Homo sapiens: one gene and its partner. The protein of the gene in region 1 purifies or fractionates together with the protein of each later gene. This does not show direct contact. Each region holds a gene or a part of one and is shown on either strand. Other genes may lie near its edges.

Evidence for each region. The genes of interacting proteins can lie anywhere in the genome.
Region 2: the proteins of KIR3DL2 (region 1) and ARB2A purify together in Homo sapiens (affinity purification with mass spectrometry; 2 studies listed by BioGRID and IntAct, with this or other methods). This does not show direct contact.

What each region holds. Positions count from the first base shown.
Region 1 is NC_000019.10:54,848,669-54,854,133, reverse strand, and holds the start of KIR3DL2 (killer cell immunoglobulin-like receptor 3DL2 isoform 1 precursor), read right to left. Parts: upstream 3,692-5,465; 5' UTR 3,659-3,691; coding exon 3,625-3,658; intron 2,915-3,624; coding exon 2,879-2,914; intron 2,137-2,878; coding exon 1,852-2,136; intron 388-1,851; coding exon 88-387; intron 1-87. UniProt on the Homo sapiens protein: Receptor on natural killer (NK) cells and T cells for MHC class I molecules. Upon binding of peptide-free HLA-F open conformer, negatively regulates NK and T cell effector functions. Acts as a receptor on astrocytes for HLA-F.
Region 2 is NC_000005.10:93,957,298-93,962,211, forward strand, and holds part of ARB2A (cotranscriptional regulator ARB2A isoform 1 precursor), read right to left. Parts: intron 1,672-4,914; coding exon 1,480-1,671; intron 1-1,479. UniProt on the Homo sapiens protein: Plays a role in the regulation of alternative splicing, by interacting with AGO2 and CHD7. Seems to be required for stabilizing protein-protein interactions at the chromatin-spliceosome interface. May have hydrolase activity.

The DNA.
Region 1 (5,465 bases):
TTCCTCATGACCACCTGGGGGTTCCAAGTCCTGGATCATTCACTCTGTGTCCCAATGACAATGAGAAGAATGTCTGGACACTCTCACCTGTGATCACGATGTCCAGGGGGTCACTGGGAGCTGACAACTGATAGGGGGAGTGAGGAACAGAACCATAACATCTGTAGGTTCCTGCAAGGACAGGCATCAAGGGACCGATGGAGAAGTTGGCCTTGGAGACCCCATCATGGATCTGTCCAACGAGGCGTGAGGGGTCCTCAGAGATCCCCTCTCTGTGCAGAAAGAAGTGCTCAAACATGACATCTGACCAACATTGCAGGATGACTGTCTCTCCTGATTTCAGCAGGGGCCCTGGGTGGGCCAGGAGGGAAGGTTTTCTGTGGTTTCCTAGAAAGAGAAGTTGTGAGTTTAGAAGGCATCTCTCTTTATCATCCCATCCATGGCACCTGGAATGAGTGAGGGTTCCCCTCCCAGAGGTCTGTCTCTCTCCTCCCTCTCTGTGTCTCCGTGTCTTTTCTGTGCCCATATCCCCTGGTGCAGGTCCCTCCATTTGTCTTCCTCCCTCTTCTCTGTCCCTCTGTCTCCAGTAGCCCCTGACTCCCTTCCCACTGTGAAGAGAGCCTCATCTCTTGGGCTGTTGTATCTCTTTCCCACTAGTCTCTTTCCTGCTGTCTATGTGGGGGTGGAAGAGGACAGGCTGCATGTCCAGGCTCTCAGCAGCCTGAATCAATCTCTTTTGAACAAATTGGAGTCTCTGGCAGAGGTATCAACTCATCAGTAAGGCAGACATCAGTGTCCACACACCCTGTTCCTGATGGGGATTGGGAGCCTCTCCTGCCATGTCTGTGCCTTCTCCATGGCCCCAGCTTCCATAGGGTGGTCCCTGGTGCTGGTTCCAGGAGCATCAACCCCTTCCTATGTGGATGGAGCCTGGTGGTGGCATCAGCATCCCACCCTTGCTGATCCCACGGTAGCCAACCTTCTCCTTGTTTGGTTTCTTTAATTAATTGATTAATTAATTTATTTTTGAGACAGTCACTTTTTCACCCAGGCTGGAGTGCAGTGGTGTTGTCTTGGCTCACTGCAACCTCTGCCTCCCCGGTTCAAGTGATTATCTTGCCTCAGCCTCCCCAGTCGTTGGATTACTCGTGCCCACCACCACACCTGGCTATCCTTGTTTGGTTTCCTAGCTTGTCCTTGACCTGGGTTCCTGTGTCGGTTTCCTGTTGCTGCTGCAGAAAATTATCACAAACATGGCAGCAGGAGAGAACACACTGACCCCTTCCACTTCTGGGGACAGAAATTGGATCCAGTTCTCCCTGTGCTGAAATCAAGGCATCTGCAGGGCTGCGTTCCCTCTGGAGACTCAGCAAATCAGTTCTCTTGACTTCTCCAGCCCTTAGAGGCCACCTGCATTCTGTGACTAGTGGCCTTCCTCCACCTTCAAAGCCCACAGTGGCTGATAGCGTCTCCCTCCCACTACACTGCTCTAATCCCCACTCCCCTCTTCCTCCACCTCTCACGCGGACCCTTGTGATTACACTGAGCCCAGCAGGACAGTCCAGGCTGTCTCCCCATCTCAAGGTCAACTCATCAACAACCTGAGCTCCACCTTCCCCTTCAGTCCCCTGCCCTATAACATAAATAGTCACAGGCTCCAGGGTTTACAATGTAGCCATCATTGGCGACAGTTATTCTTCCCACCACAGCACCCATTTCCCCTGTATTCAATCTCCCTTGACCCCAAATACAGTTGGGGCCTGGGTGATGGGACCCTGATGGACACCCCCACCAGAAGCTCTGGGATTCAGGAGGTGGGACAGTGAGAAGCCCAGACAGAAAGCCTCTGACCTGTGACCATGATCACCAGGGGGTTGCTGGGTGCCGACCACCCAGTGAGGGAGTGTGGGCGTGAACCCCGACATCTGTAGGTCCCTGCATGTGCTGGGGTCACAGGGCCCATGATGAAGCTCTCCTGGAATATTCTGCCGTGGAAGATGGGAACGTGGCTTCTGTCTTCTTTGTACAGCATGAAATTGTTAAACCCACGACGATAGTGACACTGAAGAGCCACGTGTCCTCCTCGAGGCACCACAGTGCTGGGCCGGGCAGACAGGAAGGGTTTGTCCTGACCACCTGGGGGAGAAGGAGGCACTGCCTTAGAGAGGAGGATGTGGAGCCACCCCTCCCTCCCTGTGCTCAGAAGATTCTCCCATTTCCGCTTTCTAAGGCTCCTACCACACCTGGGTGCCCAGGGCTACAGGAAGGACCCACCCCACATAGACATGGCGTCTCCCTACAACAAGTGTCAGCTGAGAACTTTGAGCAAGTGCTGAATAAGTGACTCTTACTAGATTTTAATACTGCAAAATTACTCACATAAAACAACACAAAGTAGACACGGCATGGAGGGCATGTCCTATGTGAATGGAATATCAGCCAATTCATGAACTGAGCCCCCTCAGAGGATTTGGAATGTCAGGGCCATGGCTGTGGTTTCCCCCCTCTTCTGGTAGAAAGACCGCAGCCACACTGCAGCCCCTACCGTCACGGAAACGCTGGAGGGTGTCAGTTATACCTTTGTCCTCAGAGGACCTGCTGTTCCTAGCACTGCTTCCCTCTCTTTCTCTGCTGCTGACACCACTTCCTCCCTGCACACCCCAGCTTGGAGCACCCCAGTCTCACCCCAGTCTTCACAGAGCTTGACTCAGGAAAGGGAAAGAAAGGCCAGGGAGGGCGAGGTCAGAAATGTGGGCCGAGTATCCAAGGGTCCCCTCTTCCTAGTTTATGAGAGACTCCCCGACAGGACTTCCCTCCTGTTTCAGAAAAATCCTCTTATGTGGGGAGATGACACCCTAAGGTTTGGGGACGGACTCACCCATGAGTGGCCAGGCCCCCTGCAGCAAGAAGAACCCTGGAAAGAAAGATCATGATAGACGATCCAACTGCAGGCAAACCAGGGCACCCTGCTGCCCCCACTGCACTGTGTGTCTTGGCAGCCAGGCCCTTGCTGGGCTGAAGGTAAACTTAGCCTCCCTGCTACCTGCTGCCAAGAACAGGGCTCTCAGCTGTGGAGAGACCCAGGCTCCAGGCCCAGATCAACACTTCCTGGCCCAGATCTCCACTCCAGGCCCATATCTCCACTCCAGGCCCCTATCTCCACTCCAGGCCCATATCTCCACTCCAGGCCCATATCTCCACATCAGACCCATATCTCCACTCCAGGCCCAGATCTCCCCTCTAGGCCCATATCTCCACTCCAGGCCCATATCTCCACTCCAGGCCCATATCTCCACATCAGACCCATATCTCCACTCCAGGCCCATATCTCCACTCCAGGCCCAGATCTCCACCTGCAGGCCCATATCTCCACTCCAGGCCCATATCTCCACTCCAGGCCCGTATCTCCACTCCAGGCCCATATCTCCACACCCAGGCCCATATCTCCCCTCCAGGCCCATATCTCCACTCCAGGCCCATATTTACACCTCCAGGCCCATATCTCCACACCCAGGCCCATATCTCCACTCCAGGCCCATATCTCCACTCCAGGCCCATATCTTTACCTCTAGGCCGAGATCTCCATCCCCACTCTCCCTCCCTCTATTCCCTTCCAGGACTCACCAACGCACGCCATGCTGACGACCGTGAGCGACATGGTGCTGCCGGTGCAGACAGGAGGCCGCGCCCCAGCTCAGCTCAGCAGCGCACAGGATGTTATTTGGCGCCCTGCCCATGCAGTTTACATGTTGACCACATCATGGGAGGGTGACGTACGCAGGCTCTTTCTACCTTGCATGAGGCCCAGTGGGTGCTCGCTCAAGAGCGGAACATGGCTTCCTGGAAATTGTTGTGACTACAATTGCCACCTTGCATCCTTCACTATGACCAGACTCAAAAGACGTCTCAGATCCAACCTCTCACACATGAGGTGATTGAATTCTGTGCTTACATTAAAGACTTTTGATGTATTTTTGTTTTTATCTGAGATTCAAACTTTTCTTCATGTGTAATGTGCAAAATATCTAAGAGGTATTATTAACATTATCAGAGTAATTGTGACAAAAAGCCATTCTAATTTTCCTGATGAGTTTCTAGTACTAAACCTGAGGCACGAGAATTGCTTGAACCTGGGAGGCGGAGGCTGCAGTGAGCTGAGCTCAAGCCACTGAACTCCAGCTTGGGTGACAGAGGAAGAGTCTGTCTCAAGAAAGAAAAAAAAAAGCAAACTAAATAACCTATAATAACAAATCAGAGAACTCAGGTTACCAAATTTTAAGGGGTTCTATAAGTTTATATGAAATGCAGCATCCTCATGAGAGGGGATACAGAGAACCACTGGGCAGAAAACTGTGTCTAAAATACATCTGTGGATACACAGTCCCTTTATAGTTGACAAAGGCTGCCATGTAGTTTAAGGTGGAATAGAATATTTTCTCAACAAATAACACAGGACCATAGGGTTACACGTAGGAAAAAATAAATCTAAACTTATCCTCACACTATAAAGACACTTCTTATTTTTTATCTTGTTGTTGTAAACTTTTTATGCTTTATTTTTAAGATTGACAAATAAAAATTATATACTGTGGTCCTTCACTATTCCTGGGTGATTGGTTCCAGGATCCCCATTCAGATACCAAAATCTGCAGATGCTCAAGCCCCTTGCATGAAATGGCATAGCGAAGCTGGGCACCGTGGCTCACGCCTGTAATCCCAGCACTTTGGGAGGCTGAGTTGGGTAGATCACGAGGTCAGGAGTTCAAGACCAGCTGGTCCAACATTCTGAAACCCCGTCTCTACTAAAAATACACACACAAAAAAATTTATCTGTGCATGGTGGCACGTGCCTGTAATCCTAGGGGAGGCTACTGGGGAGGCTGAGGGAAGACAATCGCTTGAACCTGGGAGGCGGAGGTTGCAGTGAGCTGAGATCATGCCACTGCACTCCAGCCTGGGTGAGAGAGTGAGACTGTCTCAAAAAAAAAAAAAAAATAGCATAGCAATTGCATAGAACCCATGCACATCCTCCTGTATACATGAAATCATCCCTTGATTACTTATAATTCCTGACACAGCCTACACGCCACTCAATTTGTGTCGATTCAACATAGTTTTTTGCTTCTTGAAACTTCGGGGATTTTTTTCTGAAAATATTTTTGATTTATTGTTGGTTCAATAAACACCTGTAAACCCCACAGATATGGAGGACCGACTGTATATTTATATTATGAAAGATGATATGTTGATATGTGTCCCCGTGGAGATGAGACTAACAAGGCCTATGACTCTACAAATGTTTCATCGTGGAATGACTCTGCCAGCTTTCCAGGTCTGCAGAGAGTAAGAATATCACTTGTTCATGTGATTCACGATCCTTGGAGCCTCCTATGTGCTGTATCTTTGGATGGAAATTGGAGTCTCAGAGACAAATCAGGCTCCATTCTGCTTCCAGAAGCTCAGAG
Region 2 (4,914 bases), on another chromosome or scaffold:
TTCACCTAGCACTGCATGTTGAAAGCATCCGATTTTCTTTACTAAGTTATATTTTCAAATATTCATCAAATTGTGAACACATTTTACATATAATGTTCTTCCGAAAATACATAGACAGGATCTGTTCTAACTACAAACAAATGTGTCAGAGAGAAAGTTCATTTCACTATTTAAAACCTGAAATCCGAAACAGTTTAAACATAATATTTTATGTGAGTTAATTTAGTCTAAACTTCAATTTATTTTTGTTACTTCAATTCTACTAAAATATACACTGTCGAAATTAGCAACCAGATCAAAAGTAGTATCTTTCCATTCTTTGCCTATCCACAAAAAGTGGGAAAAAAAAACATATAGTTAACCTAAGAAATTCTACTTTTAGCATTTTAAGGGTTTCAAAATCTATTAACCAAAATGTTTTTTAGGAGCTGGGCTGAGCCTTCATTTCTCATTTCTGAGTTAACAGAATAGAGAACATGTTACCTTTGACTTTTGTAATCATCAGCGTATTAAAGAAATCCCTTCTAATTTTAATTACAAACGTAATAATTCTTATAAATAAAACAAATAAAGCCTACATGGACACATATATTCCTTTACTTTTTACAAAAGTCTTTTTACAAAAGACTTTTTACTTTTTACAAAACTGATACAAGATATCAGTTTATGTTTTTCTAAAAAAAAAATCTACTCATGTGAAAGAAATTCACACTTTGCAAAATTGGGCTGTTCACTATGGAACTTATGAATGCAATAGTAAAACAAAAGCAGTCAAACATTAAAATATGCCAATATTATGTCAGAAAAACATTTCACTATTGCAAGAAAAGAAACCTTGAACACAATTTAAAAATAGGAGTTTCTAAAAAGTTTGAATGCAAATAAGAATAAAGTATTCATTAAACATTACATTTTGCCATTCTGTATGTCTATGTCTCATGCTTAAAGCATTTTATTTGTGGGCTCTAAAAAACATTTTAAAGAAACGACAAAAAAATTTAGTTATTCCAACTCTTCCTTTAAATAATATGAGATTAATTCAAAGTAGCAGATCTCCTTTAGTTTCTAACTTTACCAAATTAGGTAGGCAAAGGTTTACAAAAGCAGTCATGATATTTTTGTCAGAAGTTATTTTCAATAATGTTGATAAATATTTGATAGTTTGATAATTGATATTTCACAGGATTAAAAATATTTTTAGAAAATATTAACCCTGTCATATTTCACAGGATTAAAAATATTTTAGAAAAATAATTCACTCAAAAGACATTATTTAAATCTTTGTATGCTCAAGATGCCACTTTGTGTTTCTTTGTAACTGCAAAATAATGCAGAATAATCTTTCATACAAGTAAAATAAATAATAACAACCCAAAGATAAGATTATGCTTAGGATATACTTTTTGAAGAAACATAAAAACATATAATAAAACAGTACTATAAAATGCCAAAAAAAAAAACCCAGGAAATTGTACTTACAGCCACAGCTCTTTTAATAAACGGTATCTGTGTGCCACTGTCCAGATCTTCATTTATAATAAGTCTTCTAGCCCACTGCCCTGCCCTGACAACACCACTACCATGAATTAAAACCATCAGTTTCTGTGGATTTGTCAAAGCATCCTCACTCATAAAGATAAAACTCTTTGGTTCACTCTCAGTGGCATCTACCTGTAATTAAATAAAATTAAATAATAAATAAATGTCTTCTGATCAGGCATACACATAAATGAAAAAACAACTAATGGCTGTTACAAAGTATTAAATGGTTACTATAGAATTATAGAAGTAAAAAACAATTTTAACACAAAATTAAAATATTCAGTAGAGGTTAACAATTATATATTAGTTGGATGGGACAAGACATGATAGTAATTTAAATATAAAAATACAAAAAATATTGGTAATATGTTTCTCTTCATTATTATTGTATATTTAGTATTATATTATCATTGTAAATAAAAATAACTACTTTTTTAGTGCCTCCTATAGTCTAGCTGCTATGCTACCTGTTGTAAAAACATTATCTCATTCAATAACAACCCATTTAGGTGGTACTATTATTATATTGATTTATAGATGAAGAAATTGAGGCTTAGGGAGTTTAAATAAGTTGCCCACGGTCACACAACTATAAGTCTATAGTTGTATAACAGAAATATATTGCACCTATAATAAAAAATAGAAAACTAAAATTGGAGATAGACGTATTGGAAAATCATATATCAGCCAGGAATACCACTAAACTTTTAAGGGGAAGAAGAGGAAACTATTTAAAAACTAACCATCTATTCTATTCTTACCTGATCTATGTAAATGGACTTCCAAATTTCATTCAGATTGTGAACACAGGATTATATAACAATTATTTTTACAAAGCCACATTATGTACTCCAATGAACTTACTTTATAAACTAGTTACTTACAGAATAAAAAGTAAATATTTTTATCCATTTTGATTGTACTTAATATTTAGATTGTTAACTATATGATGTATGATTTACATTTGAAAGACACAAAACACTTTTAGAAAGAGATAACTTCCCAACCTTTTGTTACATATGCCATGACACACTGAGTGGTATACCACATCAGCACTGGCGAGTGACTGGAAATGGAAGCCTTTCAATAGCCAGATCAAGCAGAAAGTTGACATTCTGGTGGCTGGTACTCTTACATAAAGAAGGTCAATCCACATATTGTGTAACGTAATAGCTCTTCACTTTGTCAACTGTATATGTTCATACAATTATCAAAATAGGAAGTATACAAAAACTCTAGATGCCCCCCCCCCCCCCAAAAAAAGCCCTGGATTCTAAATACTCCCAGTCATTACGCTTAGGAAGAGAAAAATAAAATAAAATAAAATAAAATAAAATATCTGTACTTCTAAAACAATCAGGCTAGTTTCAGTAAGAGATGGCTTAGGCATTTGTGCAAACACAGCAAAAATGGCAATTATTTCAGCAAGAGCAGCATGGACACAGGTCTTAAAGAAGAAATAACACCTTTTCATTGAAGCCTTCCCTGACTACCACTTTTAAAATTCCAAACATGTCCCGAGAATTCCATAGTCCCCTTCCCTGTTTTATTTTCCTCCACGGCACATACCAAGATCTAACATATTGTATGCTTTACTCTACATTTTTGCAAATGTGTTTATTCACGGCCTGCTCCCTCCACTAGAACGTAAGTCCAGGCAGGCACAGAGTTCTCTCGTTTGTATCCACTTATATAGTCTCAGTACCTAAAATAAAACCTAGCACATTGTAGGCACTCAGTAATTAAAAACAATAAACTTTTGGAATGAGGAATCTTATCAAGCCTCACCAGTGACTTCCTTTAGATAAAAGACATTTAACTAAATAATGGATCCTCTAAAATGGTTATAATACTTGCCTGGTTCAGAAAGCATATACTGAAGATTAAACTAGTACATAATTATAGAGAATTTTACAAGAGCTATACAATGTTAAAGAATTAAAATGACATAACTATAATTTTATTAGCAATAGCTAAAAATACAGGAAGAGAGATATGAAGTGTAACACAATCATATTAGCTTCACCTGCATGCTATGTCCAGAGTAAACAAAGTATAATGATGACAATAAATATGACTACAGCCACACAGAAAGATAAGTGGATGACAGACACAGGAAAACCAAACCTAAGAAGAAAAATTCCCTTTTACCTAGGAACATTATATAAAAATAGGAGAATTGCTCAGTTAAAGAAGCCTAAAAAAAAAGTAATGATGATAAGAACAAAATAAAAAAATTGAAAGGCAGAGCTGTCAGTGTATAACAAGAAAGAGGCCACAGGGGTTTCTAGTCACTCAATTACCAAACACTATGTCTAAACACGCACAAAGAAAAGTGTCTCTTAAGGTCAGTGAGGCCTTAATGGATCCTGGAATGGCTATGGAGATGGATATCTATTCACCTTCATGAAAAAACCTGTAGTACAGATATTCCAGTAGGTGCTGATCACTGTCTCTTTTTTCCTATTTGACTAAGTCCCCTGTTACCAAGAAACTCAGTCAATTTTTTAAGCAATGGAATACTGGCACTTTGAAGTCCACAGTAATCACTTAGAACTGAAAGAAACTTATTTTCAGATGATAAAAATGTATTTTTTATATTAAAATGCTGCTCGATAAAGGACCACTTGAGTCCAGGAGTTCGAAACCAACCTGGGCAACATAGTGAGACCCTGTCTCTACAAATAATCAAAAATTAGCTAGGTGTGGTGGTGTGCACCTGTAGTCCCAGCTACTTGGCAAGCTGAGGCTGGAGAATTGCTTGAGGCCAGGAAGTCAAGGCTGCACTAAGCCATGACTGCACCACAGCACTTAGCTTGTGCAACAGAGTGAGACTCTGTCTCAAAAAAGAAAAAAGAGGGAAAAGGGAATCACATTTTAAAAAAAAACACTGCTAAATAATTTTTAAGGGGCTACAAATTAAGGTAGCCATGAATAAATTAAAGTTTTACTTGAATACTGAGAAAAGTTGACTTTCAAAATATGAGAATATCAGAATATTAAAGAAAAACAACAATGAAAATGAAAAATGTAACAATATTAATGAGTAAGGGGTAAGAGCAGTATTTTAGCTGGTCATTGGCTAATATTCACCTCAGTTTACACAGAACTCTGACTGTGCACATGGTAACTACAATGTACTTTCTATAAAGATAGTGCTAATTTTAAATAGTAAGATACCTATATTAATAAAATAATTTCTTCTTCATTAACCTAATTAAGTTTGAACATACGGCTGTTCCAAGGCCATTTATCTTCAAACAGTGGTAATTTATTAAGCTAAGCTTTCATTAAGGAATACACATAATGGTCATTCCAGCGAACCACCTCACTTTATTACAAATCAATCTCAGACACCTTTTGGTTGGTAAG